Linked DNA regions of Homo sapiens. The protein of the gene in region 1 purifies or fractionates together with the protein of each later gene. This does not show direct contact. Each region holds a gene or a part of one and is shown in the gene's direction. Other genes may lie near its edges. The genes, in order: SELENOS, DERL2, SVIP, UBE4A, MAGEA10, UFD1 and TRDN.

What was found.
Region 2: the proteins of SELENOS (region 1) and DERL2 purify together in Homo sapiens (affinity purification with western blotting; 3 studies listed by BioGRID and IntAct, with this or other methods). This does not show direct contact.
Region 3: the proteins of SELENOS (region 1) and SVIP purify together in Homo sapiens (affinity purification with western blotting; one study listed by BioGRID). This does not show direct contact.
Region 4: the proteins of SELENOS (region 1) and UBE4A purify together in Homo sapiens (affinity purification with mass spectrometry; one large-scale study listed by BioGRID and IntAct). This does not show direct contact.
Region 5: the proteins of SELENOS (region 1) and MAGEA10 purify together in Homo sapiens (co-immunoprecipitation; one large-scale study listed by IntAct). This does not show direct contact.
Region 6: the proteins of SELENOS (region 1) and UFD1 purify together in Homo sapiens (affinity purification with western blotting, with the first as the bait; one study listed by BioGRID). This does not show direct contact.
Region 7: the proteins of SELENOS (region 1) and TRDN purify together in Homo sapiens (co-immunoprecipitation; one large-scale study listed by IntAct). This does not show direct contact.

Annotation. Positions count from the first base shown.
Region 1 is NC_000015.10:101,274,377-101,279,411, reverse strand, and holds the start of SELENOS (selenoprotein S), read left to right. Parts: upstream 1-1,926; 5' UTR 1,927-1,994; coding exon 1,995-2,070; intron 2,071-2,736; coding exon 2,737-2,871; intron 2,872-4,050; coding exon 4,051-4,157; intron 4,158-4,730; coding exon 4,731-4,820; intron 4,821-4,916; coding exon 4,917-4,992; intron 4,993-5,035. UniProt on the Homo sapiens protein: Involved in the degradation process of misfolded endoplasmic reticulum (ER) luminal proteins. Participates in the transfer of misfolded proteins from the ER to the cytosol, where they are destroyed by the proteasome in a ubiquitin-dependent manner.
Region 2 is NC_000017.11:5,475,773-5,480,252, reverse strand, and holds part of DERL2 (derlin-2), read left to right. Parts: intron 1-108; coding exon 109-199; intron 200-2,253; coding exon of another isoform or gene 2,254-2,296; exon of another isoform or gene 2,297-2,404; intron 2,405-4,480.
Region 3 is NC_000011.10:22,826,754-22,831,848, reverse strand, and holds the start of SVIP (small VCP/p97-interacting protein), read left to right. Parts: upstream 1-2,047; 5' UTR 2,048-2,100; coding exon 2,101-2,154; intron 2,155-2,237; exon of another isoform or gene 2,238-2,494; coding exon of another isoform or gene 2,495-2,554; exon of another isoform or gene 2,555-2,592; intron 2,593-3,974; coding exon 3,975-4,025; intron 4,026-4,528; coding exon 4,529-4,642; intron 4,643-5,095. UniProt on the Homo sapiens protein: Negative regulator of the ER-associated degradation pathway (ERAD) of misfolded proteins. It competes with AMFR/gp78 for binding VCP/p97, and inhibits AMFR/gp78-VCP/p97 complex formation that is required for degradation of ERAD substrates.
Region 4 is NC_000011.10:118,376,121-118,380,600, forward strand, and holds part of UBE4A (ubiquitin conjugation factor E4 A), read left to right. Parts: intron 1-453; coding exon 454-574; intron 575-3,325; coding exon 3,326-3,630; intron 3,631-4,480.
Region 5 is NC_000023.11:152,132,312-152,136,059, reverse strand, and holds the end of MAGEA10 (melanoma-associated antigen 10), read left to right. Parts: exon of another isoform or gene 1-70; intron 71-225; 5' UTR 226-299; intron 300-374; 5' UTR 375-439; coding exon 440-1,549; 3' UTR 1,550-2,750; downstream 2,751-3,748. UniProt on the Homo sapiens protein: Not known, though may play a role in embryonal development and tumor transformation or aspects of tumor progression.
Region 6 is NC_000022.11:19,454,822-19,459,301, reverse strand, and holds part of UFD1 (ubiquitin recognition factor in ER-associated degradation protein 1), read left to right. Parts: intron 1-1,162; coding exon 1,163-1,231; intron 1,232-2,383; coding exon 2,384-2,449; intron 2,450-2,667; coding exon 2,668-2,715; intron 2,716-3,533; coding exon 3,534-3,622; intron 3,623-4,471; coding exon 4,472-4,480. UniProt on the Homo sapiens protein: Essential component of the ubiquitin-dependent proteolytic pathway which degrades ubiquitin fusion proteins.
Region 7 is NC_000006.12:123,217,763-123,221,298, reverse strand, and holds part of TRDN (triadin), read left to right. Parts: intron 1-2,558; coding exon 2,559-2,698; 3' UTR 2,699-3,536. UniProt on the Homo sapiens protein: Contributes to the regulation of lumenal Ca2+ release via the sarcoplasmic reticulum calcium release channels RYR1 and RYR2, a key step in triggering skeletal and heart muscle contraction.

The DNA of each region.
Region 1 (5,035 bases):
AGTAGCTGGGATTACAGGCGCCCGCCATCACACCTGGCTAATTTTTGTATTTTTAGTAGAGACAGGGTTTCACCATGTTAGCCAGGCTGGTCTTGAACTCCTGACCTCAGGTGATCCATGCACCTCGGCCTCCCAAAGTGCTGGGATTACAGGCGTGAGCCACCGTGCCTGGCCAAATTTTTTTGTAGAGATGGGATCTTGCTGTGTTGCCCAGGCTGGTCTTGAACTCCTGGCCTCAAGTGATCCTCCTGCCTCAGCCTCCTAAAGTGCAATAGGATTACAGGCAAGAGCCACCACTCCTGGCCCACTGCAACATTCTTGAAGCTCTCAAGTCTTCATCTGACACCTTGTCAAGATGGGGAACTCTTGTGTTAAACCATCCTGTTAAGTTACTGTATAAAAATAAAACTGCTCCCAAGCATTGATTGAAACTGTTTTGGTATGAGTTTCCTGAGAGAAAAGTGAGGCCCTAACCATTTTTTTCCATGAACTATGACCCCAGTACGGTATACCTAATGTCCTTCACAGCCTAACAAAATAGTTGAGGCAACCCTGCTCATCCTGTCTAGTTTATCAGTATTTAGATGTAAGGCGGATTTAAAGCTAATCTGGGACTGAGAATTGCAACTAATTCCATAGAAGTCATTCAATTTAGCACATAAATGTTCCTGCAAGATGCCAGAGCAAGTGAGAAATCATCTGTAGCAAAGCAAAGAGTGGTGATGGTTCATCACCTTTTACAACGGAAAGGCAAACATGAAGAAGGAAATTCTCCCTCCTAAAATTCCTCATTAAATCGATAAGCTATCTTCACAGCCTTTATGGATAACATCCAGAGTCCTCGGTTCATCTGAGGAGTCCATTTTCAAGGTGGCCAACAGGGAAGAAGAGCTTTCAGGCTTCTCTTTGCTATGGCTCATGAATGCCAGGTCCCCTTTATTGCTTTCTGAACACACTGCTGGGAAAGCTTGATGAGGTCAGTGCTCAAATCCCTGCAGCTGTCCCCCTTGAGGAACTTCTTGGCAAACCTGCATTGAAGAAACACTGATTGCGTTCACGCTTCATGTCATGGTTTGCCTTCCCCACACTGCTCCTGGCGACAGTGGTGACGCAGCACTCGGATGTTGTCACCTATTCATTATTTTTTCAGTTCTATTCCCAATTCCCAACCCTTCTTTTGAAACACAGCTAGGTATGTGCACTTCAAATGCTCCAGAAAAACCCAAGGTCACATTTCAAATAGGATGGTTATGGTCACCATAAAGGTGGTGACGTTTGAGTGGTGGAAGAGGGTGCGGGACGGCGTTGCAGGCAGAGGAACACAGCCAGGACACTATTATAAGTAACTCTGTGATCGTGTCTTGTGGTGATACAGTATAATTCAACACAGGTTAGAGCAGTTACTATGATCGTTCTTTCCTAAAAGGCTTTGATTTTGGAGAAAGAACCTTGAGGATCGGTGGGGACTTTCTTGGCCTGAAAGGTATCACCAGCAGCAGGAGCAGGAGGCTGCTCACATTTCGTGTCTTCACTTGGGGTGGACGTTGGCTGCAACCCTCAAATGCTGGGAGTCGTCAACCAACTGAGCCCTGTTGTCCAATGTGCCCCGGGCAAGGATGTGGGTGCAAATCCTGCTTCCGGGCGACCACTGACTTCCTTGGCTTCAGTGTCCAATTAGAAAAAAAAAAGAAAGTAGAAATTCGGTAAGAAATCCGTGAACGAGGTCCGTCCTCCACCCCCGACTCAAGCCAAGAGATAGCACAGAACGTTCCCACACGCGCTGTCCCGGCCCCGGCGAGCGTAGCCGGGATTTCTCCCCCGCCACGCCCCTCGGCCACGCCCCCCTGCGTTTGGCCCAGCGACGGGGCGGGGTCGGCCTGCGATTGGCCGGGACCACGACCGCGTCCGGGCGCGCCACGTGTGCGTAGGAGCGCACCGGAAGCGCCCGGCTGGAGGCGCGGCGGCAGGGCTGGGCGGCGGCGGCGGCGGCGGTCATGGAACGCCAAGAGGAGTCTCTGTCCGCGCGGCCGGCCCTGGAGACCGAGGGGCTGCGCTTCCTGCACACCACGGGTGAGTCGTTGCGGGGCAGCCGGGCGCGCGCCGCCACTTTTGCGACGCGCAGCCATGATGGGTGGGTCGTCCGCCGCTGCACCGGGCGCCGGAGCCTGGGAGGCCTGGGAACGGTCGGGCGTTGGCGCTTACGCGGACCTTGGGCAGCAGGCCCGGACCTTGCGCGGAGGCTTCTCGGGAGCCGCACTTCCCTGGGCGGCTCGGCTGTCCCTTGTTTGCGCAAGTCTTTTTTGCGAACCAAGCCCTTCCTGTGGTAGTTACTGGGGTCACTCGGCCGTTGGCGTTTGCCTCTGGGACCCGTCCCACACAGCCCCATACACACTCCTGACTCCCCGCGCTGTCACCCCTTTCTATGTGGCTCTGAAAGGCCTTTGCCTTCCTGATTCAGATTAGTTGCTCTTCATTCTTCAAAACCCAGTTGCTGTGCCCTCCACACTCTAACTGCCCCCGACTCCCCAGATGGTTGGGAAGTCTCACTTCTCAGTGATCCCTGAATTGTCGCACTTCTTGAGTTCGTGTTTTAACGATCTACTTAGGAGGCTTTTTCCTCAGCCTAGACCATGAAGGCTTTGAGGGCAGGAGTTACACTTTGTGTTTGTTGAGTCTTATGGAAAGGTCAACTAGTAGTGTCATTTTTAGTTTTTTGAAAACTGTTTTTCTTTTCAGTGGGCTCCCTGCTGGCCACCTATGGCTGGTACATCGTCTTCAGCTGCATCCTTCTCTACGTGGTCTTTCAGAAGCTTTCCGCCCGGCTAAGAGCCTTGAGGCAGAGGCAGCTGGACCGAGCTGCGGCTGCTGTGGGTTAGTGCCTGATAACCGAAATGAAAGCGGTGGTTTTGCACCTCCTTTATATTAAGAGTTAGTCTCTTAGTAAAAGTAAGAGGGGCCACACAGGAAGACCCTGTCTCTATTTAAAAAAAAAAAAAATAGCCGGGAGTGGCGGCACGCACCTGTAGTCCCAGCTGCTCAGGAGGCTGAGGCGGGATAATCACTTGAGTCCAGGGAGTCAAAGCTGCAGTGGGCTATGCTCGGGCCACACTACACTCCAGCCTGGGCAATTGATTGAGACCTTGTCTTTAAAAAAAAAAAAAAAAAAAAAGTAGGAAGTATATGGTTCTCGGTGGGGCGCGGTGGCTCACACCTGTAATCCCAGCACTTTGGGAAGCCGAGGCAGGAGGATGACTTGAGGTCAGGGGTTCGAGAACAGCCTGGCCAACATGGTGAAACCCTGTCTCTACTAAAAATACAAATATTAGTGGGGCGTGGTGACGGGCACCTGTAATCCCAGCTATTAGGGTGGCTGAGGCAGGAGAAATCGCTTGAACCTGGGAGCTGGAGATTGCAGTGAGCTGAGATTGTGCCACTGCACTCCAGCCTGGGCAACAGAGTGAGACTGTCTTTTCTTTCTTTTTTTTTTTTTTTTCTATGAGATGGAGTCTAGCCTTGTTGCAAAGAGCGAGACTCTATGAGTAGACGTTATGAATAGAAATGAGTTCATTTCTATTCATAATGCTATTTGGAAGGATTTTTCTTTTCTGTAGAAACAAATACTTAAGAATCTTCTGCGCTAATTAAGGGATGGATAATGATTTAGAAAACTTTATATTTCCTTGGTAGTCTTCCAGGATTCTAGTCAGCCTAGAGACTGTGGGTGTCACTGAGGTATCCAAGATGTGCTCTGTGTGGCCACTATCCCAGGCTTTATGAATCGGAATTGCTCAGGGGAACTCAGAAATTGGCATTTCTAACAGATTTCTGGTGATGTAGATATTTCGGGCTAAAATCCGTGGCTCAGCAACAGACCCCTGCCCCCTGAAGCAGTAAAATGTATGCAGAGGGGTTAGGAGTACTTATGTAAAAATATGTTGTTTCATTGTCTGATATCCATACCTCTTTATACTTTTAATAATATGGACACTCAAAAGTTTCTATTTTATATTGTACACAGTGCTTTATCTCCATTTTTTTCTGACATTTTAGAACCTGATGTTGTTGTTAAACGACAAGAAGCTTTAGCAGCTGCTCGACTGAAAATGCAAGAAGAACTAAATGCGCAAGTTGAAAAGCATAAGGAAAAACTGAAACAAGTATGAACTGGTTTCAGTTTGAATGTGTGCATAGAAATTGTCTGAGGTTTAGTGGCTAACGATGCCTGTGTCTGTGTTGTCTATAAGCTTCTAGGACCAGGTCCTATCCCATTAGATTCAATAAGCATTTCAGTTCCTACCATGTAAGTATTGGTGATATCAAGAAGAATACACGATTGTTAGGGAACACTAGATGTGTGAATATATTACCATGAAAGGTCCAGAGCACAAAAGGAGGGACAGGCTGGAGCAGGGAGCATGTGAGTGTGTGTGTGCATGTGCCTGTGTCTTCCCCATTACCAAAAATGTCCTGACAGGAGTGAGTTTCAGAAGAATGGAGTCAGTAATCTTTTTCATGAAACATTTTGCTTTCTTTAATAGTGTACAAAAACCAAAGCTGCTCTATGTGAGTTAAACTCACACTACCAGATCACAACAGTTTTATTAACTAAAGAAAACGAGGGTGAAGTTTGTTCTGAAAGACATTTAAATTAAGAATTATCAGAGTTAGCTTTGTCTTTGAGAGAAATGGCAGCTTCTGAATTCTTTCTGTAAAATGTGATTGTTTCTCAGCTTGAAGAAGAAAAAAGGAGACAGAAGATTGAAATGTGGGACAGCATGCAAGAAGGAAAAAGTTACAAAGGAAATGCAAAGAAGCCCCAGGTGACTGGAGACCTCGGCCGGCTGGCATGCGGTAGATGAAGATTGCCAAGTAGAATGTTTTAATTGCTTCTTACACTACTGTGTGTGTTCAAACAGGAGGAAGACAGTCCTGGGCCTTCCACTTCATCTGTCCTGAAACGGAAATCGGACAGAAAGCCTTTGCGGGGAGGAGGTAAGCACCACTGATGTCAAATGTTAACAGATTTTCAACACTT
Region 2 (4,480 bases), on another chromosome or scaffold:
ATAATTATGTTGACATTCATCCTAAATATAGGCAATTTGTGTTGGTAGGTCTACCTGCAATCTAAATTTTAATTCTCTCCCTCATCCTTTATTTCTGCTTGACTCTAGGTATTGCAGTTGGACACATATATTTTTTCTTGGAAGATGTATTTCCCAATCAACCTGGTGGAATAAGAATTCTGAAAACACCATCTATTTTGTGAGTATTTAACACCAGGTTACATACTCTTACAGGCAAACCAGGACAGGGGCATGATCTGTGTTTTCTTTGGCTCCCCTAGCTCCTAGTACACATAGCTCAGGTCAGTAACCATTTGCAGATTGAGCATTCTGGCTACAGTTGAAGAGCACTTGGACTGGGTAGGAGCAGACAGTGCCAGGGTTGTGGCAAGACCAACGTCAACAGGCTCAAGATATCTTGGGAGTAACCTGGTAATTGTTAGAGATGACCACTAGAACTTCTATTCTGGTAGGAGCCTGCTGGTTTTATGAAAGCTGCTGTCCACGTTTAGTGAAGTAAGGTAGCAAAATGGGCAAAACTGATGAAAGTTTCTGATGGTGGACTTTGTGGCCTGCCAAGCAGGTGGTTGAGATAAGCAGTGAAGCAGAGTGGAAATAGCTTTGGACTGGAAACCAGGTGTAGCTGTCCCACTGACCAGCCATAGAGCAAGTCCTTTCTTTTTTGCACTTCAGTTTCCTGAGATAGAACTTTGATTTCTTTCTTTCTTTTTTTTTTTTTTTTTTTTTTTTTTTTTTACATGGAGTCTCACTCTGTTACCTAGGCTGGAGTGCAGTAGAACTTTGATTTATGAGACCTCTTTCTACTCTGGAATTTGGTATCCTTGGGAGATGCCATATTAAAAAGGGCTCAATTGAGAAGTAAAATGTGAGTTTTTGTTATAAAATGTTTGTTGTAGAATAGTAAGCAAAAAAGAAGAAAGTGAAATTGTCCACTATCCCGACACTTGGGTATAGCAGTGGCCACCATTGTTAACTTTTCAATGTGTATTCTTCAGTCTTTGTGTACTTTTTAAAAAACGCTGAGCCAGGCAAGGCTGCATACACTATGATTGCGCCTGTGAACAGCCACTGCTCTTCTTGGGCTAGGCCTTTAACATAGCCACTGCATTCCAGCCTGGACAACATAACACATTCCTGTAATCCCAGCACTTTGAGAGGTGAAGGCAGACGGATCACTTGAACTCAGGAGTTTGACACCAGCCTGGGCAACATGGCAAAACCCCATCTCTACAAAAAATCCCAAAATCAGCTGCATATGGTGGCATGTACTTGTAATCCCAGCTACTCGAGAGGTTGAGGTGGAAGGATTGCTTGAGCCCAGAGGGTTGAGACTGCAGTGAGCCGAGATCGCACCACTGCACTTCGGGCTGGGGGACAGAGTGGCACCCTGTCTCAAAAAACAATTTTTGTAACCTTGTAAACTTAGTATGCCATAATTGTTTTTTCCACCCTGAAGTGTTATAAAATTATAACAGGTGATATTCCATGGTATGGATATGGTGTAATTATACTAATCCCTTGTTGATGGACATTGACGTTAGTGCTTGGTTTTCTCTTCTGTAATTGGAGTGGTGAATGTCCTTGTAGCTAAATCTCTGCACACATCCATGATTATTTTCAAAAGATAATTCCTAGAAGTAGAATTCCTATTTTGTTGCCAAACGCCTTCCAGAATGGATGTTCAGGTTTACATTTCAACTAGCATTTATAACTGTTCATTTCCCCACATCCTAATCAAACAAGGAAGGCATTTTATTTACCCTTTCCTAGTTGAATAGTTGTAGGATGATGTCTCATTGTTTATGATTTTTAAAAAATGTTTTGAAACAATTTCAGTCCTACAAGAAATTACATATGCAGTACAGGTCTCACTCCATTGCCCAGGCTGGAGTGCAGTGGTATGATCATAGCACACTGTTAACTCAAGCCCCTGGGCTCAAGTGATCCTCCCACCTCAGCCTCCTGAGTAGCTGGGACTACAGGTGCACACCACCAAGCTCTGCTTATTTTCTTTCTTAAATGTTTTTTTTTGTGGAGACAAGGTCTCTCTATGTTGCCCAGGCTAGTCTCGAACTCCAGTCCTCAGGTGATCCTCTTGTCTCTTGGCCTCCCAAAGCACTGAGATTACAGGTGTGAGCCACTACACCCCACTTTTTATTTTTTTATTTTTTTGCAATTGTTTTCTGGCACAACAAGATATACCAGGCTCATCCTGTGCTCTCCTTGATCCAGTCCTAGAATCAGCTGTTTCTTCAAGGAGCCCTGGTTCCTTTAAAGTGGAGAATGGTATTTAGAAGCCAAGATCTGGGTGCTAGATGTGCTCATTGCTATTGGAGTGTTGCTATTCCCAGATCCTCTCAGTGAACAGAGCAATGGAATTATATGTATGTATGTATGATAATGTATACATGTGTATATTTTTAGATCTATGTATTTTTTAAAACATGGGTTTATACTATACTCCCATTTCTAGTACTACCTCATGGTTCATTCTAGCTTTTTTCCTATTGGTTTCCTCCAATATTTTATTATGAAAATTAACAAACTTATAGGAAATCAGAAAAAAATTGGAGTGAGCTTCATGTAGCCACCACATAGATTCTGTAATTAATAGTTCCCTATTCTTATTGCACACCTATCCCTACATCTAGCTTTCCAATCCAAAATGTATGTGCCATTATATGTATACTTAATTCCTTGTATACTTGAGTGTGCATATCAGTAACTAGAGTTTAGTATTTATGTGCAACAAAATACACAAATCTTGAGTGTGTCAACTGAGTTTTTATAAATGCACACATCTGTGTATCTATCAAGACAGAAAATTACCATCAACCAGAAAGTTCCCTGATGTCCTTCCCTGTCAATCATTGTACCTGTCCCCCAAGAAGCAATTGCTATTCTGGTTTTGTTCCTCTGTAGATTAGTTTTTCATGTTCTACAACTTCATGAGTAGAATTGTACAGTATGCATGTACTCTTTGGTATAAGGCTTCTTTCATTCAACATAATGTTTTTGAGACTCATCTGTGTTCTTGTATTTATTGGTAATTTGTTCCTTTTTATTGCTGAATATTATTTGGTTGTATGAATGTACCACTCCTTTCCATCTGCCCTTTCCATCTGTCCTAACCTGATTCTTATTATGATTAATGTTTTACCTACCTAATTACCCCTCATATGTAACCAGTCTTTCGGGATAGTCTCCACCTCTCCCATATGGATGCCTTGCTTATCTCACTCACCCTCAGATTCCCCAGACCAGGCTGCCCTCTTACAGGGATGCCTCCCCATCCTACTCGGGCTAACATCTCGTCAGGCCACCTCCATGTGTGCATGGTCTGATGGGGCTCTTGACTCCCTATACCAGGCTGTGCCCCCACCCCCATCCTGCTAATGTTTGGGCAGTAGAAGGGATCTCAGTTTTGTTTTTGTTGTCGTTGCTGTTTTTTGAAACGGATTCTTGCTCTGTCACCCAGGCTTGAGTGCAGTGGCTCAATCTCGGCTCACTGCAACCTCCGCCTCCTGGGTTCAAGCGATTCTCCTGCGTCAGCCTCCCTAGTAGCTGGGATCATAGGCATGCGCCACCACACCCGGCTAATTTTGTATTTTTAGTAGAGATAGGGTTTTGCCATGTTGGTCAGGCTGGTCTTGAACTCCTGACCTCAGGTGATCCACCCTCCTCGGCCTCCCAAAGTGCTGGGATTACAGGCATGAGCCACCACACCTGCCGGGATCTCAGTTTCTAATATACTTTCCTTTGATTATTGTGAGAGCAAACATTCTCACGTTTATTGACCACATGGATTTCCTTTTTGAATTGCATATTCAGCCCTTTGCCCATTTTTTCTGTTGGTATGTTTGTTTTTATTGTTAATTTGTAAGAATTTTAAAAACTCATTTTGAATTATACTATTTTCTGACTCCAGTATAAATCAGAAGTTTTCAGATACATTTCTAATTTTATCAACTGTGGAGGATTACAAGTAGAAATATAAGTGCAAATTGAGGATGCTGCTTTAATGGTTCCTTCTTTAGTGAGGTTTTGAATTACTACATCATAGTACTTAGGGAGTCTTTTGGACATTTACTATCCCCTCCTATGTTCTGCAGTAATTTTTCTTGGGATACCTTGTTAATTTTTTAAAAATTTTGTGGTAAAATAATACCTAACATAAAATTCACCATCTTAACTCATTTTAAATGTTCAGTGGCATTAAGTATATTCATACTGTTTTGCTGCCATCACCACCATCCATAGAACTCTCTTCATCCTACAGAACTACAACTCTGTACTCATTAAACAACTCCCCACCCCAGCCATCACCATTCTATTTTCTTTCTCTGAATTTGACTACTCTGTACCTAAGTGGAATCATACAATATTTGTCCTTTTTTGTCTGGCTTATTTCTTATTTCATTTAGCGTAAAGTCCTCAAGGTTCATCCATGTTGTACCAT
Region 3 (5,095 bases), on another chromosome or scaffold:
CTCTTGACAAGCAGAAAGCTCCATCTTGAAGCCAAGTGCCTAGACAGTAAACTACCATGAAGACGGGGAGACAGGTGCCACTCTGGGATGTTTTCATTTCTAAGAGAAAGCCAATAGGCCTCCAAAGATATTCTGAGGATACAAAACTGGCAAGAGGCTTATTTAGGTTCTTTCTTTCTGATGCAAAACTGGCAAGAGGCTTATTTAGCCTCCCCTGCCCTCCCCTCCCCTCCCCTCCCCTCCTCTCTTTCTTTTCTTTCGACGCAATCTCTCTCTGTTGTGCAGGCTGGAGTGCAGTGGCGCGAGCTCGGCTCACTGCAACCTCCGCCTCCCGGGTTCAAACGATTCTCCCTGCTCAGCCTCCGGAGTAGCTGGGATTACAGGCGCCCACCACCATGCCTGGCGAAGTTTTGTATTTTTAATAGAGAAAGGGTTTCCCCACGTTGGTCAGGCTGGTCTTAAACTCCTGACCTCAGGTGATCCACCCACCTTGGCCTCCAAAAGTACAGGAGTAAGCCACCATGCCTGGCCTTTTTTTTTTTTTCATACATTTCAGTGAGACAGAGATAGCGCTTACAATTTCACGTTTTCTAAACACAATGCTAAAGAGGAGGTGGGTAGTTATCTTTCTCTTTTTGCAACAGAGAACCTTCACTTTTTCTTTATATATTTTTATTTACCCTTAGAAACGGCCCATGCAATCGAATAATAGTATTAAAAAAGCATCATCCCCTATTATTTAAGGAATAAACTACTGTTTCATTCAATAACATGGAAGAATTTAGAAAATATTATGGCTTTTGCAAAACATATTGTATATTTCATTTATGTAAAACTTAAAGACTATAGTGATATTAACATTTATGCAAAACTTAAAGACTAAAGTGATATTAAACAAATTAATAGTTTCCTGGATCTAGGTATAGGATAAAGTATTGAATGGGATTGGGTACAATAGAAGGTTTTTGGGTGATGGAAAACTTACATATCTTGAATGTGGTGATCACATGTTTGTTAAAACTCAGTGAACTCTACAATCAAAATAAGTGCATAATATTATATGTAAATTATACATCTATAAAAAATTAACCAGCAAGTATATCAAAAAGCCGACAATGGTTTCTGAGACGCTGTCACTATACATCCTACCTTTTTGTAATGTTTGAAAATTTTTACATAAGCAGAAATAACTAATAGAATGCAAAAATAAAATAAAATAAAATAAAAGCATTTGTGTGGAGACGAGATCAGTAACTTTAGTATCACCTGTGGGTTTACTGGAAATGAATCTCAGGTCCCACCTTATACTTACTAAATCAGCAAGTAAATTTTAACTAGTTGCCCAGCTGATTCTCATACTTATTAAAATTTGAGGAGAATCATTAAAACATTTCTCAGTAGATGAAACTTTATTATTTCTCTCGGAAGGATAAATGACTTCTAAATACCAGAAACTAGTGGAAATGTCAACTAATGCCACATTTATGACGCTAGATTCATCGTCATAATAATGGATTTTATATTCTGCCCTCTGTTCTGGAATAGCACTGTCACTAAGAAGGGAGAAAAGGGTGCTGATGTTTACTTGGAATTTTGGCTTTAATTTCTAGGACACCAGAGTCCCATCTCATAAAAAAAGGTAGCATGAACTACCCAGAGCTGTACCACTCATTCATTTATAAATGGTAAGGCAAGGTTAGCAGGAAGAGCTTTGGAACCGTAGCGAAGCTTTTCCATCCCTTCCCTGCATTGCTACCCACAGCAGGTGTTTCCTGGAACCTAGGCTTTGGCCACAAGCCCAGCGGTCGCGGGGCGGGGGTAGGCGGAGCTGTGGGTGAGGAAGGGGCAATGCCTTAAGGGGGCGCAGCTGAGCTGTGGGACTGGTTGGTGTCGCGAGAAGAGGGGGGCGTTGCCGCAGAGAGGCGAGGCGGGGCAGAGCTGCGGGGTGGGGGCGGGGCGTTGCCGCTGGGGCGGAGCCGAGCCAGTGGAGGGCGGTGGGGGCGGGGCAAGCGCGGAGGACCAGGGACCGGCTCCGGACCGCGCAGTTAGCGCCGCCTGGCCTGGGCCGGACCCGGTCAGGGTTCTCAAGCTGTCGTCCCTATGGGGCTGTGTTTTCCTTGTCCCGGGGAGTCCGCGCCTCCCACGCCGGACCTGGTGAGTAGAGCAGGTCCCTGCGTCCGCCGGGCCGCGCCTTGAGCACCTGTCCTCGGGTTGCGGGGCGGGCCGAGCCATTGTACCTGGTGGCGCAGGTCGAGAGCCCGCTGGGGGACCCTGCTAGCGAGGACGGGTGGACGCGTCAGGAGGGTCGTTGGGTCCTGTCAGAGCGACCTAGGCCGTCGCCTCCGTGTAGATCTCCACTTTTGTAACAAAAAGTTGTCGAAAGGCGGCTGTGGCGTCTTTCTACCTTCCACTGACTTTAGCTGCGCCGGATCTTCATAGGGCGCCGGCGCACGCAGAGGGCGTTACGCGTGGGACATTCCGGGGGATGTGGTAGATGGAATTCGGCGCGAAAAGACATTGCTTTCTCCGGGAGCTCTTTAGTCGTCTAGGAGATGTGCGTTTTCAACTGTGTCTACCATCTTTTAAAAGAAGGTGCTCGGAAAGTCGCTTATACGCCTGAGCTTTATCGGATATGTTTTTTTAATGATTTCTTTTTAGTATTTATCTCATTCTTTTACGTTCTCCCTTTAAAAGAATATGTAGTACAGAGTGTCCAATTTATAATGTCGTATTTAATAAAAATACTGGACACCCAGTTACATTCGAATTTCAGATATACAAGGAATACGTTTATAATATCGTTTTGTGCCATGCAATATTAGGGATCTAGTTCTACAAAAACATTACTCATTGCTTATCTGAAATTCAAATGTAGCTAGTGGGTGTGTGGTACAATACATGTACACTTTTTGTAGCTTTCTGTTAACAGTATCTTTACATTAGTACTCCTTACAGGGAGTTAACATAAACCTGTTTCTCTTCTCTAGCTAAAAATTAGTTGAAGAAAATGAAGTATTTTTGGGAAGTACATTAACTCTTCAGCTACTATAGATACTAAAAATTTAGTACTTATAAATTTGATGTGGGAAAGTTCAGCTTCTCTTTGTTGCTGCTGTTGTTTTAAATTAAGTTGATTTTGTTGTTCTGGCTGTCGATAAAATATAACATGTCAGATTTGTTAAGCCCTCCCCCCCATCCTCATACTATACCCTCTTCCCTTGATAACCACACGGCTCACTGCTTGGATGTCACTTTACCAGTGAAGCTTTTGCTGACCACGTTAAACAAAATATATTCCCCACAATACCACCCACCCATTCTCCCATTACTTATCTGCCATGCCATCTGACAGACGTTTACTTACTTCATTATATTTGTCTGTGCGCCCGCAATTGGAATTTGTTTCATTTGGGAGGAGACATTTATCTATGTTTTTACACTGTTGTATCCCAGCACCTAGAAAAAGGGCTTTATAATAAGTAGTACATGGTCTAGAAAAATAGCATTCACTGTTTTCTGATATGGAACAATACCTCTCATGAAATTACTCCAGTCCTTCCCTCCTACACACTGAGATTAGCCCACTTCATTTATTAACCTTTCCTAAAAACACCAGGTTACTTCAGACTCCATTTTAACCGGCAGTAACAAACCATGTATTTTCCTTTTTGTATTTGTAAACATTATTTGTTTTGTTATTGCCCTGACTAGCTTGTAGGCCTTTTTATTAAAAAAGAGAGTAAATAAATGATTATATAGGTAAACCTTGTATCTGTTTTAGCATGTGCTGATTTGAAGGCATATTGATTAGGAGAATGAAATTCAAAAAGTTGAGTAGTGGCATTCTTTGTGGGACATTTAGGGCCAGTACCGAATATTTTTGTAAATTGTTATAGTGCCTATGAAATAAATGTGAATAATTTATTAATAATAATGTTTGTTATTTTAATACATATTTTTACACATTTATTTAGGAAGAGAAAAGAGCAAAGCTTGCAGAGGCTGCAGAGAGAAGACAAAAAGAGGTAAGATTAAAGATCAAGTTTTGCCTACTTAGATAATTGAGTTTGGACTTTATTCTTCATAGATGTCCATAGCTAGATTTTCTAACGCAAATGGCCTTTGATATCCCAAAAATTTACATTTAAATGTAATTATTTTCAAAATGATTTCCTTATTTATATGAATTGCATTAATATATTTATATTAATATATGAAAACTATCATATCTTCTCTAAATTCAGATACTCTTTTAGTAACATCCTTCCTTTTAAAATGGCTGTGCATTGTAAAATACTTACAGATGTGAAGCAAGTTTAGGGGAAAATTTGTATAGTTACAAAATACCCAGTGAAGAAATGATGTTTTATGTAAGGCTGTTGTAGAAACACTCCTTCTATGTTACCAAAAATAAACCAACTCCCTACCCCCAAAGAAAAACCTAGAAAGCAAAGATAGACAAAAAAATGTTTTGCACACTGGACAGATTTTTGTTGTCTTTCTGTTTTTCTTATCAAATTTCTTCAAGGCTGCATCTCGGGGAATTTTAGATGTTCAATCTGTGCAAGAAAAGAGAAAGAAAAAGGAAAAAATAGAAAAACAAATTGCTACATCCGGGCCCCCACCAGAAGGTGGACTTAGGGTAAGTATTAAAATTTTCTTAGTGATTAACTTAACTGGCATTTTAAAAAAACTTAAGTAGCAATCCATTCATAATTTTCTCCTGAAATGTATTATCAGAAAATTTTGAAATAGTTTAAAAGCATGAGTAGTAAATATTGGAAGTAATACCAATTTATTTTAACATTTATTGGAATCAATTAGCTTTTTTCCCCAAAATGAAATAATAGATTTATTATTTTAACACTATATATATTTTAATACTCTTATGCTTACTACTAATCTTAAATAATTCAAAAATTCAAGCAATATGGAGAAGTATAAAGAAGTGTAAAAGTCATCCAAACTAAGTACCATTTTGACAGACATAATTTCTAACCTTCATTTATATATCTTATTAAATTGGATTACGCTATAAGTTCTGTTTTATGGCCTGAGCTCTTTTACGCATTGATTTGGAATCTTTGATCTTTCC
Region 4 (4,480 bases), on another chromosome or scaffold:
AGGGAGGAAGATAGGTGGGGCTGGATTGGAGAAAACAGTACAGAGAAATGAAGAGAAAATAAATGACTCACAGTCCTACCATTCAAAGTGAAATCACTCTTAATTTTGGTATATTTCATTCCAGTTTTATAATTCTAATTGTAAACATGATAACTGCTCAAAAGCAAATAATCAAATTCAGAAAAGCACAAAATAAATACAAATGATCTATTGCCTATCACTTGAAACAATCTATAGTAGTATTCCTTTTAATTTTTGGTGATTTCATGAAAAAGATTTAACTGTATTTCTGTAGACGGTGAGAAACCAAAAGATATATTCAGACAAAGAACTAATATGACAAGATATGTTTTTAAGAAGATATCACTGCTAACAGTATGGAAATTGAATGAGTGTAAGAGGAGACTGGAGACCAAGACATTTACCCTCTTTTTTTTTTTTAACTTCTTTGAGGTTTGGACAAAGAAACCTGTTTGATCCCAGCTGTGCAGGAGCCGAAGTTTCCACAGAACTACAACCTTGTAACAGAGAACCTTGCTCTGACAGAGTACACCTTGTACTTGGGATTTCACAGGTAACTCCTCTGATGTCATTAGGAAAAAACAGTTTAGTTGTGTTGATAACTAGAAGGTAGAAATTGAGTCTTTGGCCAGGCACAGTAGCTCACATCTTTAATCTCAGGATTTTGGGAGGCCAAGGCAGAAGGATTGCTTGAGGCCAGAAGTTTAAGACCACCAACCTGGGCAAGAAAGTGAGACCCCCATCTCTACCAAAAAAAAAAAATTAGCCAGGCATGGTGGCATATGCTTGTGGTCTTAGCTGCTTCAGAGGCTGAGGCAGGAGGATTGCTCTAGCCGAAGAGTTGGAGGCCACAGTGAGCTATGATTGTGCAACTGTACTCCATCCTGGGTGACAGAGTGATAACCTGTTTCTTAAAAAAAAAAGAGAGGAAGAGTCTTACAGATATAATCTGAGCTTATTCTAAAGGTTCACATTAGAATCTAATAGAAAAGGGGCATTGTATGAATTTACTTGTGTTTCATGAATCAGCTTTGTCCAGATTCCTTAAATTTGTTTTTAACTTTTATCGTTGTCGTTGTTGTTGAAATGGATTTTCGCTCTTGTCACCTTGGCTGGAGTACAGTGGCACATTCTCTGCTCACTGCAACCTCCGCCTCCTGGGTTCAAGCAATTCTTCTGCCTCATCCTCCCAAGTAGCTGGGATTACAGGCATGCACCACCATGCCCAGCTGATTTTGTATTTTTTTAGTAGAGATGGGGTTTCGCTGTGTTGGCCAGGCTGGTCTCGAACTCCTGACCTCAGGTGATCCACCACCTTGGCCTCCCAAAGTGCTGGGATTACAGGCATGAGCCACTGTGCCTGGCCTGTTTTTTAACTTTTGACCTGTTAAACTTTAAAAATTAAATCACTGTCTTCCTATTGTGATCTGGGAAAGTGGAATTGTTTTCATTTTATATTGCACTTTCTGCTCTTAAATTTTCATTACTGGCCGGGTGTGGTGGCTCATGCCTGTAATCCTTTGCACTTTGGGAGGCCGAGGCAGGCAGATCACTTGAGCCCAGGAGTTTGAGACCAGCCTGGGCAACATGGCAAAACCCCGTCTCTACAAAATATACAAAAATTAGCTGGGCATGGTGGCGTGTGCCTGTAGTGTCAGCTACTCACGAGGCTGAGGTGGGAGGATCTCTTGAGCCTGGGATGTTGAGACTGCAGTGAGCCGAGATTGCGCCACTGCACTCCAGCCTGGGCAACATAGTGAAACCCTGTCTCAAAAAAAAAAAAAAAAATTTCATTACTACTCCTGGTGATAAAAGATGAAGTTCAGCCGGGCGCAGTGGCTCATGCCTATAATCCCAGCACTTTGGGAGGCTGAGGCAGGCAGATCACAAGGTCAGGAGATCAAGACCGTCCTAGCTAACATGGTGAAACCCCGTCTCTACTAAAAATACAAAAAATTAGCCCAGCTTGGTGGTACGCGCCTGTAGTCCCAGCTACTCGGGAGGTTGAAGAAGGAGAATCGCTTGAACCTGGGAGGCGGAGGTTGCAGTGAGCCGAGATGGTGTCACTGCACTCCAGCCTAGGCGACAGGGCGAGAATCTGTCTCAAAAAAAAAAATTAATTAAAAAAAAGAAAAAGACCAAGTTCTACTCTACAGATAGAGACAAAAGTGGCAAATATTAAGGAAATGTTTATAAGGGAGCTAATGAGATCAATAGGACCACAAAAGACATTAGATAAAGAAGATTCTAGAAATGTTAAGATTTTAGAACTAGAATGTATGACTTCCAAAAACAGTTCTGGTTCTGGCTATTCATTATTCTGTAATTTGTTTTCCTCTGATTTAGCTGATTATGACAGGTATAAGTAGAGGAAGAAAACAGCAACTCAGTCATAGAAAGGGACACTAAGAATAGCAATTTTTAATGCCTTCTCAAGATACCTGAATTGATGCAGAGCATTTTTCAAAACTACTCAGTCAACACATTGCCGGAAGAAGGAAATTATGTCTTTAGAGAGAAATCTCCATCATAGACATTTTAAATAAGACAGTAGATAAAAGTTCAGCATGTGCTTAAGCTGCTCAGCTGCCTAGATTCAAACAAAAAATGAATATCATCTAGTTTCCCAATATTAGCTAGCTCAAGACATTATCTACAGGGCCAAAGGAAATGATTTTGGACTATTATCCATAACTTTGAATTATGTGTCTTCCTTTCAGTAGAGAATATTAGGCTGACCTTTTCTGAAGAATAATTTAATTTAATATTGAACAACAGAGAGCTGGAAGCTGCTCTTAGATTGCATCTCAGGTGGCTACTAGTTTATATGTGGTCATTACTAATCTAGAGTCCCTTTTCACCAGCTTAGTTTTCTACTAACCAAAGAAAGACTATCCATATAACCCCATCAAAGTATGATCATTGCATCAAAGTATGATCATTGCCCTTGTGTGATGTAAAACTATCCTGCTGGCCTTCTTGTACTTTGCCTAATAATTATTTTATGTAATAACAACCCATTCTACACCCTACTCAACCAAGCTGCCTTTCTTTGGATAGTGCATTTCAACTGAAGGCTGCTATTTGCAATTAGCTTCAATTATGTTGAATACTTGGCAGCATTTTCCCATTGCTGTGCACCCTGCCTGTGTCCTGTCAAAAACTTTTGTGAGTGCCTTCTGTGTCATTGCAACTGCAACTCCCTACTATCCTTAAAGAGAAGGCTAGATAAATAATTGAGGATTTGTTTTTTTGTGACTTTCTGTTTTCCCTGACCCAGTCTCTTCTGCTTTCTTGGGGGCAGGTTGCATGATCAGATGGTAAAAATCAACCAAAATCTGCATCGGCTGCAGGTTGCCTGGCGGGATGCTCAGCAAAGTTCTAGCCCTGCTGCTGACAATCTTCGTGAGCAGTTTGAACGACTGATGACCATCTATCTTTCTACCAAGACTGCCATGACAGAGCCACAAATGCTACAAAACTGCCTAAACTTGCAGGTGTCCATGGCTGTTCTACTGGTTCAACTGGCCATAGGCAATGAGGGCTCACAGCCAATAGAGCTAACCTTTCCTTTGCCAGATGGCTACAGCTCTTTGGCTTATGTGCCAGGTAAGCAGGCTCTCCCTTGGGAATGTCCTGTTTATAGCCTTCTGAGTTTAAGTGGGTCACTTTGGAAGTTTAATCCTCAAAATACCCTTTCTTCGTTATCATTCAGTTGTTTTTGGAGAAACAACTCAAACTTAGATAATATCTACTGGTCAAAGTATTAGGGGACTAACAGTTTGTTCCCTCAACCTTGTGTCCCCCTGCTATGCATATCAGAAAATCATCTTCAAAGGATTAAGTGTAATCAGAGTTTTCAGAGCTGTTAGTTTCTATCATTAATATTTGTTCAACTTACACATTCATCTAACTTTCCCTGTCCTTTTTGTAGAAAAAAAATTAGCTCCTGCTGGTTAACTCAGAAGGGAAAGAGTGTGTGTGTGTGTGTGCGTGTGTGTGTGTGTGTGTGTGTGTGTGTGTGTGTGTGTGTGTCAGTGAGTCATTGAGGGGTGGGCAGGTGTTGTCAATCTAATCAGGTTATGTGTTCTTAACCATTGTATTGGCCATATCATGCTGAGTAACAGATTACCCCAAAACATAGCAGCTTAAAACTACAGACTGGGTATGATGGTGCACGCCTGTAATCCCAGCACTTTGGGAGGCCGAAACAGGATGATTACTTGAGCCCAGGAGTTCAAGATTGGCCTGGGCAACATAGAGAGACCCTATCTCTACAAAAAATAAAAAATTAGCCAGGCATGGTGGTGCACACTTGTAGTTCCAGCTACTCAGGAGGCTGAAGTGAGAGAATCGCTTGAGCCCAGGAAGTTGAGGCCACAGTGAGCCATAATTGCACTACTGTACTCCAGCCTGGGTGACAGCAGGACCCTGTCTCAGAAAATAAATTAATTAATTA
Region 5 (3,748 bases), on another chromosome or scaffold:
GAGGCCTTGGTCTAAGGCAGTGTTTTCAGGTCACAGAGCAGAAAGGGCCCAGACAGTGCCAGGAGTCAAGGTGAGGTGCATGCCCTGAATGTGTACCAAGGGCCCCACCTGCTCCAGGACAAAGTGGACCCCACTGCATCAGCTCCACCTACCCTACTGTCAGTCCTGGAGCCTTGGCCTCTGCCGGCTGCATCCTGAGGAGCCATCTCTCACTTCCTTCTTCAGGTTCTCAGGGGACAGGGAGAGCAAGAGGTCAAGAGCTGTGGGACACCACAGAGCAGCACTGAAGGAGAAGACCTGTAAGTTGGCCTTTGTTAGAACCTCCAGGGTGTGGTTCTCAGCTGTGGCCACTTACACCCTCCCTCTCTCCCCAGGCCTGTGGGTCCCCATCGCCCAAGTCCTGCCCACACTCCCACCTGCTACCCTGATCAGAGTCATCATGCCTCGAGCTCCAAAGCGTCAGCGCTGCATGCCTGAAGAAGATCTTCAATCCCAAAGTGAGACACAGGGCCTCGAGGGTGCACAGGCTCCCCTGGCTGTGGAGGAGGATGCTTCATCATCCACTTCCACCAGCTCCTCTTTTCCATCCTCTTTTCCCTCCTCCTCCTCTTCCTCCTCCTCCTCCTGCTATCCTCTAATACCAAGCACCCCAGAGGAGGTTTCTGCTGATGATGAGACACCAAATCCTCCCCAGAGTGCTCAGATAGCCTGCTCCTCCCCCTCGGTCGTTGCTTCCCTTCCATTAGATCAATCTGATGAGGGCTCCAGCAGCCAAAAGGAGGAGAGTCCAAGCACCCTACAGGTCCTGCCAGACAGTGAGTCTTTACCCAGAAGTGAGATAGATGAAAAGGTGACTGATTTGGTGCAGTTTCTGCTCTTCAAGTATCAAATGAAGGAGCCGATCACAAAGGCAGAAATACTGGAGAGTGTCATAAGAAATTATGAAGACCACTTCCCTTTGTTGTTTAGTGAAGCCTCCGAGTGCATGCTGCTGGTCTTTGGCATTGATGTAAAGGAAGTGGATCCCACTGGCCACTCCTTTGTCCTTGTCACCTCCCTGGGCCTCACCTATGATGGGATGCTGAGTGATGTCCAGAGCATGCCCAAGACTGGCATTCTCATACTTATCCTAAGCATAGTCTTCATAGAGGGCTACTGCACCCCTGAGGAGGTCATCTGGGAAGCACTGAATATGATGGGGCTGTATGATGGGATGGAGCACCTCATTTATGGGGAGCCCAGGAAGCTGCTCACCCAAGATTGGGTGCAGGAAAACTACCTGGAGTACCGGCAGGTGCCTGGCAGTGATCCTGCACGGTATGAGTTTCTGTGGGGTCCAAGGGCTCATGCTGAAATTAGGAAGATGAGTCTCCTGAAATTTTTGGCCAAGGTAAATGGGAGTGATCCAAGATCCTTCCCACTGTGGTATGAGGAGGCTTTGAAAGATGAGGAAGAGAGAGCCCAGGACAGAATTGCCACCACAGATGATACTACTGCCATGGCCAGTGCAAGTTCTAGCGCTACAGGTAGCTTCTCCTACCCTGAATAAAGTAAGACAGATTCTTCACTGTGTTTTAAAAGGCAAGTCAAATACCACATGATTTTACTCATATGTGGAATCTAAAAAAAAAAAAAAAAAAAGTTGGTATCATGGAAGTAGAGAGTAGAGCAGTAGTTACATTACAATTAAATAGGAGGAATAAGTTCTAGTGTTCTATTGCACAGTAGGATGACTATAGTTAACATTAAGATATTGTATATTACAAAACAGCTAGAAGGAAGGCTTTTCAATATTGTCACCAAAAAGAAATGATAAATGCATGAGGTGATGGATACACTACCTGATTTGATCATTATACTACATATACATGAATCAGAACATCAAATTGTACCTCATAAATATCTACAATTACATGTCAGTTTTTGTTTATGTTTTTGTTTTTTTTTAATTTATGAAAACAAATGAGAATGGAAATCAATGATGTATGTGGTGGAGGGCCAGGCTGAGGCTGAGGAAAATACAGTGCATAACATCTTTGTCTTACTGTTTTCTTTGGATAACCTGGGGACTTCTTTTCTTTTCTTCTTGGTATTTTATTTTCTTTTTCTTCTTCTTCTTTTTTTTTTTTTAACAAAGTCTCACTCTATTGCTCTGGCAGGAGTGCAGTGGTGCAGTCTCGGCTCACTGCAACTTCCGCCTCCTGGGTTCAAGCGATTCTCCTGCCTCAGTCTCCTGAGTAGCTGGGATTACAAGTGTGCACCACCATACCCGGCTAATTTTGTATTTTTTAGTAGAGATGGGGTTTCACCATGTTGGCCAGGCTGGTCTCAAACTCCTGACCTCAGGTAATCTGCCCGCCTCAGCCTCCCAAAGTGCTGGGATAACAGGTGTGAGCCACTGCACCCAGCCTCTTCTTGGTATTTTAAAATGTTGTTACTTTTACTAGAATGTTTATGAGCTTCAGAATCTAAGGTCACACGTTCGTTTCTGTTTATCCAGTTTAAGAAACAGTTTTGCTATTTTGTAAAACAAATTGGGAACCCTTCCATCATATTTGTAATCTGTAATAAAATAACATGGAATTGGAATAGTAATTTTCTTGGAAATATGAAAAAAATAGTAAAATAGAGAAAATAATTTTAAGTGTTAGTATTTTTATTTCTTTATTATTTTTAGTTTATCATCCTGCAAAATTAAAAGTTATATCCCTGGATCTTGTTAAGTCGAAATTAAACTGTAATAAATGAAACCTTTGCTCACTAGTGCATTTTTTCCCCAAACATCCACTGAGCATCTGGTCTGTGGAAGGCCCTGGGTCTGTAGTGGAAATGTTAAGCCAGAACCACCTTTACCCATAGGGTGGTAGAGTCTAGGGGCTGCAGTCAAGTAACAAGGTGGCAAGATGTCCTCTAAGACCCAGAAGAAAAGTAAGACGGGGTGAGGGTATTGGGCTGTAGGTGAGAGTGGTCACGTACATCCTCTGAGCCAGGACTTTTGGGGCTTTGAGAAACTGCAGTTCCTTCTGGTGAAGATGAATCCAAAGAAGCTGGGTGGTGCCAGGGTCAGAGCCTCACATAGTTGACAGAGCAAATCCTGGGATGTAAAACTGCTCTGAGCAGTTCCTTTTGGGTGGTGGATGAACAGAGAGGAGTCCACCTGGGGCAGGAATGGAAGGTGTTCTGCACTCTTGTCTCAGTGCAGTTGAACTCCTAATTAAATTAAAAAAATAACTAGGTGATAGATACCCATCATATGCAAGGGTCTCCTGAGAGATAAGGATCTCATAATAAATAAGCCTATGAATTGATGCCTAGAAGTTAGCTGACTCCATTAGAGAAACATTTTAATTGGGTTATTTTTAGTGTAATTTGAACAACACTAAGCAAGGGCTAGATTTTGAGTGGTGATGAAATGAATGAAAATCATGATTTGGATGGAAAAGAACCTTGGAGAGAGGGAAGGAGTTGATACTTGACTCAAATTCCATGAACTTTGAGCAGCATCCAGCAGGGAGAAACTCCTGCACATGAAATGTTGAAAATATATCCTCTAAGAGGGAAAATTTACTGAGTTTTATATGTGAAGCAACATTTGTGACTGATTTGGGATTCCATGTTCCACTGAGCTGCATATTCTGAGATGTACTGGATAACAATGACAAAAATTCCAGAGAAGACTGTGGTGGGGTCTGAGGTCAAATAATATTAGAAATAACAGCCATCTGCCATTCATTAAACTTCTAACTAT
Region 6 (4,480 bases), on another chromosome or scaffold:
TACATAGGTGAGGTCATCTTAGACACAAGCAACATGACTGGTTTTACAATTATTTTCCTGTTGGCTGCGTAGCATACCATTGTATAACTGTAAATTTACATATGAAGAAATATAATTCAGCTGCATTTTGAGTATACAGACAGTCCCTGACCATGGTTCTACCTAGAATTTTTCAACTTTATTATGATGCAAACATGATACACATTCAGTAAAAACCATACTTTGAATACCTATACAACCATTCTGTTTTTGATCTTCAGTACAGTATTCAATAAATTACATGAGTTATTCAACATTTTATTATAAAATAAGCTTTATAGTAGATGATTTTGCCCAACTGTAGGCTAATGTATGTGTTCTGAGAATGGTTAAGGCAGGCTGCACTATGATGTTTGGTAGGTTAGGAATATTAATACATTTTTAACTTATAAGTTTATGGGACTTGGTTCCATCATAAGTCAAGGAGCATCTGTACAGTGGTATTAGTGACGTTGGTATGAGCATTCTTAGAATTTTCTCATTGGGTATAGCTAGTTATTTACTTAGAATAAATTTCGAAGGCCGAGTGCGGTGGCTTATGTCTGTAATCCCAGTTCTTTGTGTGGCCGAGGTGGGCGGATCACCTGAGGTCAGGAGTTCGAGACCAGCCTGGCCAACATGGTGAAACCCCATCTCTACAACAATACAAAAATTAGCCAGGTGTAGTGGCACATGCCTATAGTCCCAGCTACTAGGGAGGCTGAGGCAGGAGAAGTGCTTGAACCCTGGAGGCGGAGGTTGCAGTGAGCCAAGATCGCACCACTGCACTCCAGCCTGGGCGATAGAGCGAGATTCTGTCTAAAAATAAATAAATAAAATAAATAGTAAAGTTCCAGAAGTGAACTTTCCAGGTTAAAGGTTGTTAGTGTCTTTTGCAGTTAGCTGTATAACTACCTTGTCTAATTTGAACCATATCTGGGGAACAGCATCTCTTCAGCGATGGGCACAGGGCAGCCTGTCCCTTATGGCAGTGTTGTCACAGCAAGAAGTGCAGCTGTAGGTTGTGTCATGGGCATGAATGCTGTGTCATTCGCAGGAGCCAGTAGAGCCACAGTAACATGGACAGCGACAGCTCCAGTGCTGCCAGGAAACCATCCAACTGATTTCTGTGTTTGCCCCACAGATCTACGAACTGCGTGTGATGGAGACCAAACCCGACAAGGCAGTGTCCATCATTGAGTGTGACATGAACGTGAGTGGCTCTGTCCAGTTACAGTGAGCCTGGGCCCTGGGAGGATGGGCAGTTGGTGACCACTGCAGGCCAGGGTGTCAGGAGGGCATCAAACAGCCCCTGGGACTCTGGGTAAAGAGGAGGAAGATGCTGTCAGAACATCATGAGGAGACTGTGACCTTGTGATCTATCTCAGGGCCAGTTGGGGCAACAGAGTTTGCTGCCAGTGCTGCCATGGTTAGCTCTGACCCGTTGAGGAGTGAATATTCTTTTTTTTTTTGAGACTTAGTTTCACTCCTGTTGCCCAGGCTGGAGTGCAGTGGTGCGATCTTGGCTCACTACAACCTCCACCTCCCAGGTTCAAGCGATTCTCCTGCCTCAGCCTCCCGAGTAGCTGGGATTACAGGCATGTGCCACCAGGCCCGGCTAGTTTTGTATTTTGGTAGAGACAGGGTTTTACCATGTTGGCCAAGCTGGTCTCAAACTCCTGACCTCAGGTAATCCACCCGCCTCGGCCTCCCAAAGTGCTGAGATTACAGGTGTGGGCCACCGCGCCTGGCCGAGGAGTGAATATGCTTAAGAGCTAAGGAAGCGTACTGAACCTTCTGAGTAGGAATGAAGTGCTGATGCACACAGCATCCTGGTTGTATTACTAGGGAATACTGCTGAGCAAAAAAAGCCAATCCCAAAAAGTTACTTCGTTATATAACATCCTCAAAGTGACAGAACTTTCGAAATGGAAGACAGACCAGTGGTTGCCAGGGCTTAGGACTGGTGGAGGGGGCTGGGAGACAGCTGGGTATGGTTATAAAAAGACAACATGGGCAGTCCTAGTGGTGGTGAAACTGTTCTACATCTCAACTGTGGTGGATACATGCCCCACACAGTGATTACATTGTGTAGAACTAAAGATACCCATGAACAAAAACATGTAAAACTGGGGAAATCTGAATAAGAGCAGTGGGTTGTGCCAGTGTTGATATCCTGGCAGCAATACTTTACTGTAATTTTGTAAGATGCTACCGTTGGGAAAACTGGGCAAGTGTACAAGGCATCTTTTGTATTATTTCTTAAAACTGCATGTGAATCTACAGTTGTCTCAATTAAAAACAAAAAAGGAAGCCAAGGGTGGTCATGTCTCAATATTTTACTTTTAAAATCCTGGAAACACAGGTGGACTTTGATGCTCCCCTGGGCTACAAAGAACCCGAAAGACAAGTCCAGCATGAGGAGTCGACAGTAAGTGTTATCCTCAGTGTCCTTTGCTGTCCTGCTGCATGCTGCTTTTGAGTTCCTGGCAGTGGCTCGTGGGTGGCCTCTGCTAGTGTTGGTGTAGTCATATCCTCTGCGTCCCTTCCAGCCATGCTTCCGGGGGACATCCTAGCCGGGGGTGGGGGTGAGAGGGAAGCTGGGTGTCCCCGCTGAGGAGCTCACCTGTTTTTCTTTTTCCCTGTCAGGAAGGTGAAGCCGACCACAGTGGCTATGCTGGAGAGCTGGGCTTCCGCGTGAGTACCAGACCACTTGACTTATATTGCTGTGCCCTCTGCTCCTTGAAATTAGAGCACTCACTCAAGGTGTTCTCCATGATGCTCGATGGACATCAGCAGGGGTTAGGCCTCTGGGTACCTGTGCATATGCAAATCTGCCACTCGCTCAGTTACCAAACCCTTTTGTATCCACTCTCTCCTGGAATCTTCCCAACAGCCCCATAAGGCAGCCCAGATTTTTAAGAATTTCTAACCTACCGAAGAGTTTAAATAGTACAGTAGACATATACTGTTCCCTTAGGTTCACCAAAAGTTACCACATTTGCTTTCTCTCTCTTGTAAATCATGTTTCCTTTTTTCTTTGCCTGTACCATGTAGGTTGCAAACATGACCCTTAGCATAACTACTGGCAAGGCTCCATGGGAAACAGGTGGAGGTGGTTCATGTGTGGGCACTGAGGTGGCAGGAGGTGCCAGGAAGCAGCAGAGAGGGCAGAATGATGGGAAGCTGAGCTATGGGGCAGTCACAACAGTAGCCTTAGCCCACCCATAGAGCTTGAACTGGGTGGCCCTGCAGAGGCAGGGATCAGGTCTTTTAACCCAACACTGACTGCTGGCTGCCCTTGGCCAAGTGGCTGTCTTCAGCTCATGGCCACCCCCTGAGGAACTGGGCAGAGTTCTTAGCTGCCAGCACCCCAGCAGTTGAGGAGTCAGGGCTTCAGTCCTGAAGGGGTCTGCACAGCACCCCCAGCTCACATCCCTGCAGTGATCTCCAAGCAAAGGACATATCGTCCTCACACTTGGGCTTATTATATGACTCACCTACTTCCTGTCTAGGCTTTCTCTGGATCTGGCAATAGACTGGATGGAAAGAAGAAAGGGGTAGAGCCCAGCCCCTCCCCAATCAAGCCTGGAGATATTAAAAGGTAGGTCTGTCCTGGCTCTCCTCCAGGACAGGAGGAGGATCTGTGCCAGCCCGCTGGGGTCGGGCAGCCTCACCCCAGTTCTGGAGACAAAGCCTGGGTCAGTAGTCTCCCAAGGGACTAAAACCCTTAGCTGCTCTCCTTGGTGGGGTGGAGCACAACATGCCCCTCCTTCCACAGTGCCACCCCCAGTACCACTGTGGTCCAGCCTCTCTCCATACCTCTCCATACCCCCAATTCAGCCTCTTCTTGCCCCCACTGGCTTTCCTAAGATGCGAGTCTGATTAGATCTGTCTCTTACTCAAAACCTTTCTGGTCCCTATTTGGTGATCTGCCTATTTTCCTGTTTTGTGACTTGGAATTATTAATCAGGTCACATTATCTCAGTTCCCCTGAAAGTTCCCTGAGGAGCTACCTCAGATGTGCTTCTGTTGCTGGGTCCGGGGACCCACAGCAGACCCTTCCTCTGGTGGCCATGATGGCAGGGGCAGGGCTGAGGTGTGTCAGTTGTCTGTTGTGTGTGTGAAATCAGAATACTGGAGTGAGAGTCTAGCCACCTCAGGGGGTTCTGTGAAGCTCAGGACAGTGACAGTGAGGGCTTCCCAATCCTTCAGATGACCCCTCTCCATAGACAGGTACAGAGCCTAAAGCCCCTGGCCCTATACCCAATATTGATACCAAACCAAGAAGTCAGTTACTTTCTGCTTCCCTCCTGGGAGGATGCCAGGAAGCACCAAAGGGCCCAGGTGGGGTGCAGCAGCATCTTTTCTGCGTTCCTCTTGACTGTCAAAAATGAATTTTAGTCCTTTTTTCCTGGAAATAACATTTCTCTGTCTCTGTCTCTTCTTACAGAGGAATTCC
Region 7 (3,536 bases), on another chromosome or scaffold:
AGGCAGATAGTTGGAAGAGTTACAAGTAATGGTTGAAGTGGCATTTATCGCAAATCCTTCTACATATTTCTGATCCTTAGTACTCTGGCTGAATCTATGCTTAAATGTGTCTTACTGCCTGCTTTATAATAGGACAGCTGAAGTAATATGCCAAATTTTTTTATATCAGGTAGAAAAAATGAAGAAATAGGTTTTAGCAATTCAATTGCTTGGAAACTCACTTCTAAGATTCAAGATTCTTTTTGATTTTGCTAGATGTATGGTAGGTTCTAAATATTCAAACTTTGGGATCATTTATTTTAGAATCCAATCAATATTCATGTGCAGTTACAAAATTCAATGCCCAAGTTTCTCATTATTTCGGTTCTTCCAAATTAGACATTTTTGTTCATATGGTAAAGCAATAAATTTTAAATCTGTATTTGCATTAAAGTCATTGCAGAACAGAATAAAGGAAGCAATTTTTGAAATAGGTATAACTGAAGTTTGTGTCACATAATGCTTTTAAAGTAAAGAGCTAGATATTTGTCTGAAGAAATGACGTCTCTTGATTCTCCAGTGCTTTTTGGATGTTTTTGTGCAGGAAATTACTAAAGTGCCCCTTACAATAGCAAATGCCTCCTACTCTGTATTAATAGGTGATTCATTAGACAGATACTGAATGCCTACTATGTTCCAAGTACTTCTTTGGATGCTGGAACTACTGCAGTAGATAAGACACTTATTATAATCCTTCATATAATAAGGTTGTGAGAAATATAGGGAAATAAGCAGAGTCTTATGATACTTTGAGTAATATTACAAAATCCATAAGAAAAAGAATTATAGGTCAATCTGGACATATTTTCATTTTATATAGCAACGCTTTCCCAATTATTAACCTACTGGTAATAATTTGTGGCTATGTCACATAAACATTTGAAATCTCATATATTTTAAATAACTATTAAAATATAATTCAATGAGACAGGTGAATTGTATCAATACCAGTTTCCTAGTTGGAATATTGTTCTATAGTTTTACAATATGTTACCATTGAAGGAAACTAGGTGAAGATATGTGGTATCTTTCTGTATTAACTCTTACAATTACATGTGAGTCTACAATTATTTCAAAGTAAAAATTTTAATTAAAAACAAAACGCAAATACTTTTAGTAAAATGGTGTCAAATATTCTAACCTCAGTTGGGGGATCTATTGCATCAAAATGATATTTGCTATCTTCGTCTTACAAGAAGGCAGTTCTATAGCCTGATATTCATGAGCCTTTAATTTAAGCTCTAATATTTGCAGTCATAATAATATTTTAATGAGTAGCTTATTCAACATCAATTAAATAAATGTGTCAAAACAGTGTCCACTTCTGATAAGCAGCTGGAAGGCAGCCTGTCATTGATGGGCCCTTCTACTTTTAGCAATGGATTTCCATTTCTCCTTGTGCAGGGCCGGCTTTACTACTGTCCCTCTTGTAGCCTGCCTAACCCCCAAGCTCCCATAACCTCCACAAACTTGAAGAGACGGAAGTTGTATTATTGCTTCGGTTTGAAGATAGAAGAAAAGAGAAATCATTCCAGATGAGATGCATTGGAAAAGATAACTAAATTCAAGATTCTTCAAACTATTGTCATCCCTGAAAACCCAGTGACCCATGGAAATGGAATCAGAATACTCCCTGGTTGCTTCTCCAGCTTCCTTTTTTCCTATCCTTTGCTTTATTCTACTTCATAAACCCCTAGTCTCATATGGATTTGGCCATCTTCTTTATCTCCCACACACCACTAGCTTTAACTATGATTTTTCTTTCCTGGCCTTCTGCAAAAATCTATGGCTGGTTGACAGAATGCAAATGGATAGGATAGAAAACACTGGAAGTTTGTAGGCACCCAAGATTGTGAGGAGATGCTAAACTCGCCATCTTTTACCAAAGCTGCTACCTGGGAGCACCGGCTTACTGAGTCCAGAGTCCTTACTTGCACCACACTCCCTTAACTTTCCTGTTTTGCTTTCTACTCAGAGCTGCTACCTGGCTGCTACCTTTGTTGCTCAAAGAGCAACCAAGCCACCTTAGGAAAGCTCTTGCCTCTAAAGTAAGGGCAAATAAAACTTCTAGATGTTGGCACCACCTCTCTGTGACATTATAAAACACACACACACAGTCTGTTGCTTTGCATATTGATAAGCTCATATTTTGAAACCTGTGACTATGTCTCTATGATTGCTATGCACATCAACAGATGTCTATATGATCAGAACTTTGACTTTCTCTGCCAGGCCATTTTTATTATCACTTATTAAAGGCTTATTACATACCAGGAAGAATTTTAAGAGCACATGTAACTCATGTAACTCATTTAACTGTCATAATATTTCTGTGCGGTTTTCGTTGTTTTGATGTTATACATAAAGACTCCAAGACACAGTGAAGTTTAGTAACTTGCCAACAGCTACGGAGGCTGCTGGCAGAATCTGTGACCTTATCTGCTGCACTGCACTGCCTCACTGTGCTTTTTTGCTCATGTTCTGCATGTTTTAACAAACTGTCATGCTCTGTTCCTTAGGTCCCATCAGTTTCTTCCAGTGTGTCTACTTGGATGGGTACAATGGCTATGGATTTCAGTTTCCTTTCACTCCTGCAGACCGCCCTGGAGAGAGCTCTGGTCAAGCAAATTCTCCAGGACAGAAGCAACAAGGACAGTAAACACACATGTATGACCCTTACAAGTGCTTTAAGATTTTAAAAATGTGATGTTTTGTCCACAGTAGTTCAGGCAATTAAGAATATGCAACCCAGAGAATTTCTGTGAAAACATTTTGCTCTTTGGCCTGGTGTGGACGGAAAGGGTGGCCAAATGGATTGAGTGATGAGCAGACATGTTTAAGGGTCTAAGTCTCAAGAATCTGTTATGTGTGTTTGCTGCGGTGGGAGGGGGTGCTTGTATTTATCTTATTTCCAGTCACTATAAGGTTGTACACAAACTAATTTAAAGTTTACTTAATAATGGTATCTTTAAAATAATTGACACAATTGCAAAATGAATTCCTGGCTTCAGTTAGCTATTATTTTTTTAATGACAACATAGACTGTGCTCTAAGTTTAAAAGATGGGGAAGCTTATATAAAAGTGACCCTTTTGCATCATATGGGTATCTAAACTTAATTTACCCAATAAGTTGATGCTTAATGATTTTATTTTATTTTTGTCTATTTCTATTTTAGTTGTGGCTTTGCTCTAAGAATGGGTAATAGTTGTACTACAGACTGCTATAAATTTCTTGTGATACTCTTTTAGAGCTCAAAATATCTCTGAGCTTTAGACATGGTAAGGTGGAGAGTAAATGCTTGATAAATCTTTAAGATATGTCTTGAATGATAATTAGGACATTCAGTCCAGTGGAAATACACCATTCAATTAGTCAGGTCTGGTGAATCGTTTGTTTAAAATATTAGCAAATGAGATGTGGAATTCTGAAATTTCTCCAGACTGTGTCTTAATAAAAATGTCACCTGGGTGAAATTTTAGATCAATCACTAAATTT